Linked DNA regions of Homo sapiens. The protein of the gene in region 1 purifies or fractionates together with the protein of each later gene. This does not show direct contact. Each region holds a gene or a part of one and is shown in the gene's direction. Other genes may lie near its edges.

The links. Proteins that work in one complex are often made in the same cells at the same time.
Region 2: the proteins of SCRT1 (region 1) and VRK3 purify together in Homo sapiens (affinity purification with mass spectrometry; one large-scale study listed by BioGRID and IntAct). This does not show direct contact.

The regions. Positions count from the first base shown.
Region 1 is NC_000008.11:144,333,683-144,337,850, reverse strand, and holds the start of SCRT1 (transcriptional repressor scratch 1), read left to right. Parts: upstream 1-1,368; 5' UTR 1,369-1,681; coding exon 1,682-1,796; intron 1,797-2,659; exon of another isoform or gene 2,660-2,864; intron 2,865-3,734; coding exon 3,735-4,168. UniProt on the Homo sapiens protein: Transcriptional repressor that binds E-box motif CAGGTG. Can modulate the action of basic helix-loop-helix (bHLH) transcription factors, critical for neuronal differentiation.
Region 2 is NC_000019.10:49,994,373-49,997,872, reverse strand, and holds part of VRK3 (serine/threonine-protein kinase VRK3), read left to right. Parts: intron 1-302; coding exon 303-369; intron 370-2,597; coding exon 2,598-2,682; intron 2,683-2,953; coding exon 2,954-3,059; intron 3,060-3,500. UniProt on the Homo sapiens protein: Plays a role in the regulation of the cell cycle by phosphorylating the nuclear envelope protein barrier-to-autointegration factor/BAF that is required for disassembly and reassembly, respectively, of the nuclear envelope during mitosis.

The DNA.
Region 1 (4,168 bases):
AATTGGGGACAGAGGCACCCGCGCGCGGCCATTGTGCGGCCCGGAGCCCCGGAGCCCCCGCGCCCGGCGCCCCGCCATTGGCCGCTGAGCCTGACGTCATGGGGGCTGCAAACGCTGGGCGGGCGGCCGAGGAAAGGGTTATCCGCCTGGTTGCGGGGCTGCCGTGGGGAGCTGCAGCCGCGCGGAAGGGCGGAAAACCCCCAAAGCAGCAGAATTTCTGGAGCAGGGTCGTGGCAGCCCCTCTCCAGCTCCACACCCGGCTCGCAGCGACGCCGCTGCGCCGCACACCCGCCCGGGGGGAGAGAGGCGGGGGCGGGTAGGCCCCTCCAGCGTGCACGGGGTCAGCCGGGGTGACCGAGCGGCGGGAGCCACTGCGGCACAGGGCGCGCGCTGCGCTTTCGCTGCCTCAGCACTTGCTCCTTCGGCTCCCGCCTCCCCCGCCCGCCCCCGCAGATCCCGCGCCCCAGGCCCCGAGCGAGGCAGGCGGGACTGGGGTCCTCCCTACGTTCCTCCCCACAAGACCCCGAGTCCGGGGCGCTTGGGTCCCAGGCCTGGCTCCATTTCTCCCCACACGCCCGACAATGCTGCTGGCTGCCGGGCCGCGGTTCCCCGAGCCGCGCGGGGGAATTCCCCACTCGCGCAGGCTGAGGCATCCCCGGGACCCCTCCCAGGAGACCCAGGCCGGGGCTCGGCCCAGCGCAGCCATTTCCGCCGGCCTCTCCCCCACCTCCCTCCCCCTCCCCCAGCTCCTGGGCTTTAAAAGCCAGAGGCTGGGCCGGGCCGCAGGCAGAGGCGGCTGCGGGCTCTGGAGGCCGGGCCCAGGAGCAGTCCGAGCGCCGAGCCCCGCCCCCGGAGCCCCTGTCCCTCCCTCCCTCCCTCCCTCGGCCCGCCCTCCCTGCGCACCCCTCCCCCCAGGACCCCCGCCCCCCGCCCGCCGCCGCCGCCGCCGCCGCCGCCGCCGTCGCCACTGCCGCTCGCTCCGGCTGCAGAACAATAAAGCAAGCCTCCCAGAGACCCCCGCCGAGGACCCCTGCCCGGCGGCCAAACCCCCGCGGACCGCCCCTCTCCGCCCGCGCCGGTTGAGCGCGCCCGGGCGCTGGCCGCGGTGCTGCCCAGGCCGGCGCTGGCCGCGGTGCTGAAGCTGCCGGCGCTGCCGCTGCCACCGCGTTCTCCGGGCCCGGCGCCGCCGCCCCCGGGGGCATGGGGGGCCGCTGACTGAGGCTCCGCCGCGGCGGCGGGGGGGGGGAGGGGAAGGGGGCCACCGAGCCGGGCCAGCCCTGCACCCACTCGCAGCCTCCAGGCCCGGGACGGAGCCGCTCCCCCCCTCTCCGCCCCCCCAGCCTCCTCCCCCGCCTGTCCAGGGGCGGCACTGCGGGCTGGGAAGCCGGGACCAGAGGAGGGAAGGAAGGAAGAGGAGAGGAGAGAAGAGGAGAGAAGGAAGGAAGGATTGAAGGAAGGAAGGAAGGATTGAAGGAAGGAGGAAGAAGAGGGATCCGGAGGGGCAACGGAGGAGACGCAGGGCAGCAAGGAGAGAGGACACCACTCGCGCGGCAGCATCCAAAGGCCAGAGTGGGGACCCGCGCTGCCTCCGCCGCTCCTCGGATGGTGACGGGGCCCTGCCGCCGCAGCCCCCCCAAGCCCCGGCTCCGCAGGCCCACAGCGCCGGAGCCCCGCAGGAATCATGCCCAGGTCCTTCCTGGTCAAGAAGGTCAAACTTGACGCGTTCTCTTCGGCCGACCTGGAGAGCGCCTACGGACGCGCCCGCAGCGACCTCGGCGCGCCACTGCACGATAAAGGTGAGCGCTGGTCTGAGACCAGGGCGCGGGGCCTGGGGCTTTGCTGGAAGCGGTGGAGGGCCAGAGTGTGGGGGCGGAGGGCAGGGCCCGGGGAAACAGACTGAAGGGAACCAGAAACGGCAAGAGTCTGTGGCTGGAGCCTGGACGGTAGAGGGGAGGAAGGGGAACACAGAGGCCAAGGCTGGGCAGGGAGAGTGTCGACGTTGGACAGAGGGTGGGGAAGAGGATCAGGAACTGAGGTACCCAAACGCACACATGGACCCACATCCTGACCCATGCTGGGACAGACACAGCCGCATGGGCGCTGCCATGACGGGACCCAGCCATGCCGGCACACACAGACCTACACTCAAGAGACCAGGGCCGCCTCGCCACCCTCTCCTCTTCCTTGACTGCACCAGGACACCTGCTAGGGTTAGCTGGGGAATGCAGGGAGCTCCAGGGAGTAGGCAGGGGGTCCAACAGGGCCGCCCACCTGTCAGAGCAGAGGGCCAGCAGAGGCAGCAGCAGTCTCTTCCCTGAAGCCTGGGTCAGGGAGAGGAAGCAGGGAGGAGGCTGTGAGCAAGGGACGCCCAAGGTGTGGGAGGCAGGGGGAGGCTCTTTGTGTAAGGGTGCCCAAGTTCAAGGACAACTGTCAGCATGCAGGAGAGGGGGACAGGAGTGCCAGCAGCATGGGGTGGCAGAGCAAGTGTGACCTGCAGGAGTGTGAGCCTGTGTGGGTCCATGTGACTGTGTGTGGCCATGTGACCGTGTGCGCTTGTGTGTGACCCTGTGTGTGTGTGTGCTTGCCTGTGTGCCACTACATGGGACCATGTGACTCTGAGGCCGCTGTGCACCATGTGACTTGAGAGTGTGTCCGGGGTGACTGCATGTGTGACCCTGCGTGAGTGAGGAGGTGGTGAGTTCGGCACATCAGTGTGCAGCCCACCCTGTGAGGGCACACAAGGGCTGATCATGCTGGGAGACTGGGTGTAGCCCTGAAGGAGGCAGAGCGTCGCGAGGGGCGTGCATTTGTGACTTTGAGGTTATGAGATCCATCTTGTGCCTGGGGAGCAACTGCAGCTACCGGTATAAGTGATGCTGCCCTCCTGCAGCTCGTCCCTGTGAAAGTGGACGCCCTGGCCCTCTCTGCACAGTTCAGGGGCTTGGGAAGGCCCTGAAAGGGGTTAGGGTGTGAGCAGGAGAGGGCAATGTTGAACAGGGTAGGACCCAAGGGTGCAGGATGGTGAGAGGGAGTTCGGAGGAGAAGCAGAGTGCATGGAGGAGCAGGGAGGGCAGGGTCAAGTCCAGTGGGTGGCCGGAGAGCTGAGGGAGGTGCTGGTGAGGCCGGAGGGAACTGGGGGAGGGAGACGTCTTCAGGGCTTGTTGGAGGAACCAGAAGGCCAGAGGGGGTCAACATCAAAATGGAGCGCACGTTCTGCAGGCCAGAGGGAGAGCCGGCCAGGACCCCGGAGAGGTGGGACAGACGGGGTCCCTGGGCCGGCAGTCCTGGCTTTGTGCGCCGCGGGTCTGCAGTGTGTTGCATAATCAGGGAAAACTGCTGAAGTGGGGAGAACCCGAGGGGGAGGGGAGGGTGGGTGGGGGAGGAGGGAGAGGGAAGCGCCGCCCCTCCCCCCTGACCTTGAGGCTCCGCGGAAGGGGGGCAGCCGCGCCCGAAGACGCGCCTCTCTCCTCCTCTCTGCGAGGGTGGGGCGGCGGGGGCGGAGCGTGGCCCGGCCCTGTCTCATCCTCTCCTCCCCTCTCTTCCCCTCCCTGCTGTCTCCATCCTCCCTGCCCGGCGGTCCCTCGGCCTCCTCTCCTTTGTCCTCCTCCCTGTTCGCCTCTCTCCCGGACCCGGGTCTCCCGGTCCGCGTCTGCTGTCTCCCGCCCCCCCATCCCCCGTGTGTGTCCTGCCGCCGCCCCATTCCCTTCCCGCTGTCCGTCCGCCTCCGCCCGCAGGGTACCTCAGCGACTACGTGGGGCCCTCGTCCGTCTACGATGGCGACGCCGAGGCTGCGCTGCTCAAAGGGCCGTCGCCGGAGCCCATGTACGCAGCAGCTGTGCGTGGAGAGCTGGGTCCGGCGGCTGCAGGGTCTGCGCCGCCGCCCACCCCGCGCCCGGAGCTGGCCACCGCTGCGGGCGGCTACATCAACGGCGACGCGGCCGTCAGCGAGGGCTACGCGGCGGACGCCTTCTTCATCACCGACGGGCGCTCGCGGCGTAAGGCTTCCAATGCCGGCGCTGCCGCCGCTCCCTCCACAGCCTCGGCGGCGGCCCCCGACGGCGACGCCGGAGGCGGGGGCGGGGCGGGCGGGCGCAGCTTGGGATCCGGGCCGGGGGGCCGGGGCGGCACGCGCGCGGGGGCAGGCACCGAGGCGCGCGCGGGGCCAGGG
Region 2 (3,500 bases), on another chromosome or scaffold:
TTGGTCATGTGGTCAGTCCTCACTGCAAAGGAAGCTGGGAAACGTAGTTTTTATGCTGAAGGCTACATTCTAGGGAACACTGTGGCTCTTACCATAAGAGAAAGAAAAGGAACCTGGGTACAGCAAGGTAGCTCGCAGTCTCTGATGTGTGTTTGTGTGCAGTACCTGAGGAATTTGGCTCCGATGTGGGGACTTGATGAGGAGCCTGGTCATTGAGGGAGTAACAAATTGCCAGTGGGGACTGGGGGCCCTTATCTGAGACTTCAGTGTGACAGCCTTCTGCCCCTCCTGTCCCCCACCAGGATGCCAAGGATGGGCGCTTGTTCAATGAGCAGAACTTCTTCCAGCGGGCCGCCAAGCCTCTGCAAGGTACCTGACAGGGAACTGGGCAAGGAGGGGAGAGTGAGGGGGGCGCCAACTTGGTCACAGCACTTGACTTCTACCTGCAGGCATGAGAAGGGTGGGCTTAGATTAAAGGCCCAGGTTTGCTCCCATCTGTGTCCATAACCTGACTCCTGTGACCCCTCAGGCCTCAGTGTGTGTTGTGACTGGCTCACACCAGCTCTTGGAAGCCAAGTATTAAATTTTCAGGCTGGGCGTGGGTTGACGCCTATACTCCCAGCACTTTGGGAGGCTGAGGTGGGCAGATCACTTGAGGCCAGGAGTTTGAGACCATCCTGGGCAATGTGGCAAAACCTTATCTCTACTGAAAATACAAAAATTAGCCGGGTGTAATGGCATGCACCTGTGATCCCAGCTACTCAAGAGGCTGAGCTGAGAGAATTGCTTGAGCCCGGGAGACAGAGATTGCAGTGAGCTGTGATTGTGCCACTGCACTCCAGCCTGAGCAACAGAGCCAGACCCTGTCTCCAAAAAAAATAAAAATAAAAATAAATTTTTAGGAAGATGGCAAGCTGGTTGTTACAGACAGCCAGTACTAGCAATTAAATTATATAGGCCAGGCGTGGTGGCTCATGCCTGTAGTCTTAGCACTTTGGCAGGCTGAGGTGGGTAGATCACCTGAGGTCAGGAGTTCAAGAGTAGCCTGGCCAACATGGTGAAACCCCATCTCTACTAAAAATACAAAAATTAGCCAGGCGTGGTGGCGTGTGCCTGTAATCTCAGCTACATGGGAGGCTGAGGTGGGAGAATCACTCGAACCTGGAAGGTGGAGGTTGCAGTGAGCCGAGATCATGCCACTGCACTCCAGTCTGGGCGATAGAGTGAGACTTAGTCTCAAAAAATATATAAAATAAGTTACATAATTTTACAAATAAATTATATTCAAAACAAAGGTAATGAACCCTCAGAAATTCATCACTTCCTAATTATTTCCTACATGTCCTGTGATCTCTGCCAGTGAGGTTGTGTGCACTATTGTCTCTGTGTGGTGAGAATGCTGCATGATGGCCTCCCCTGTATATCTCTCCCACCCCACCTCCAGTCATGTCATGTTGGTAGCTTGGAGTTGGCCATAGCAGGAGTATTTATTTACACTGCAGAAATTAGCAAATGCAGTCGGGCGCGGTGGCTCATGCCTGTAATTCCCACACTTTTGGAGGCGGAGGCCGGTGGATCACCTGAGGTCAGGAGTTCGAGACCAGCCTGGCCAACATGGCAAAACCCATCTCTATTGAAAATACAAAAAAAAAAGGCCGGGCGTGGTGGCTGATGCCTGTAATCTCAGCACTTTGGGAGGCCGAGGCGGGCGGATCATGAGGTCAGGAGATTGAGACCATCCTGGCCAACATGGTGAAACTCCATCTCTACTAAAAATACAAAAATTAGTTGGATGTGGTGGCACGTGCCTGTGATCCCAGCTACTCGGGAGGCTGAGGCAGGAGAATCACTTGAACCTGGGAGGTGGAGGTTGCAGTGAGCCGAGATCACGCCACTGCTCTCCAGCCTGGTGACAGACGAAGACTCCATCTCAAAAAAAATAAAAAATAAAAAAAAATTAGCTGGGCCTGGTGGCAGAAGCCTGCAATCCCAGCTACATGGAAGGCTGAGGCAGGAGAATTGCTTAAAATCAGGAAGCGGAGGTTGCAGTGAGCCAAGATCGCGCCATTGTATTCCATCCAGGGCGACAGAGCAAAACTTCGTCTCAAAAAAAAAGAAAAAAGAAATTAGCAAATGCTACCCATCAGGACTGCCTTCCCTGGATAGCCAGCTGTTAAACTAGCATCAGCTCGCCATTGGTTCTGGTCCACCCCACTGAGATCTGGAAGACAGGCAGAGGCACATTCCGGTGATGCCATGGCTAGGTTAGACACGTGTTGATCTTGTTAGCTCTATGTGTGAATTCGGAAGTAACCCTGTCATTATCCCATCTCTGCACTCCAGACTTGTATATGCTTCCTCCAGAGCCACCATGATCACCCCATCACCTGCAGACCTGGATCACAGACATTCATGGTCACCCATGCCTGCCCTGTCACCAGCCCCTTCCCACCATCACCCACCCACAATGTTGTCACCTCCAACAAGGAGACTTGGAGGCGGTCTGGGCACTCTGTGCTTCTTCTCTGAGAACTAGCTCTTACTGCCATGGGCTTGGGACTGGGTGGGTTCTAACCTCAAGCCCCTGCTTTCCGCAGTCAACAAGTGGAAGAAGCTGTACTCGACCCCACTGCTGGCCATCCCTACCTGCATGGGTTTCGGTGTTCACCAGGACAAATACAGGTGAGCTGCTCTGCTCACTGCTTGCCTCACCGGCCTCTTTCCTCTTCTTCCTGTTGTGACTCCAGGCATGGCTGGGACCCCGAAGCCGTGGGCCAGGTCTTTGCTTCCTGCCTTCTCGTAGTTTTGACCTAGTTTGCTGCCCAGCCAGTCAGAACCTTTGATCTCACCTGGGACCAGGACCTTGCAGCCCACGCAACAGTCCATCCTTGGCGGCCGGTACTCCTCTCTCCCCTGTTCATCTCCCACCTCCTGGGGTGCTTGTGTCTTCCAGGTTCTTGGTGTTACCCAGCCTGGGGAGGAGCCTTCAGTCGGCCCTGGATGTCAGCCCAAAGCATGTGCTGTCAGAGAGGTCTGTGCTGCAGGTGGCCTGCCGGCTGGTGCGTACCCAGAAGTTGCTCAGCTGCCGCGTCAGGGAGGGCACATCACATCCTAGTTTAGCAGGCACTTTAGTCATTGACACTTCCGGCCCCCACCCCCCTCCGCTGCACACTGGGGGCTGGCTCACTGACTGCCATGGCAGGCGGTTAGAGCCGAGATGATGGGTGGTCAGTCCTGTGGAGGGCCCTTGGGGGGCCATGAGCATTGGAGGAAGGAGCCCCGGCCTCAAACTGAAGGCTTAGATTAGGCTTCCTGGTGGAGGGTGTTTCTAAGCCAAGACTCTCAGGATGAGTGGAAATAGCAAAGTGCTGGGTGGAAGAGGAAGAGGATAGATGAGGAGAGGATGGTCCGGCCAAGGATACAGCTGGGGCAAGGCTTGTGTGGAAGGGAGAGCATATGGCATTTGTTCATTAGTTCATTCATTCATCCCCATTAAATAT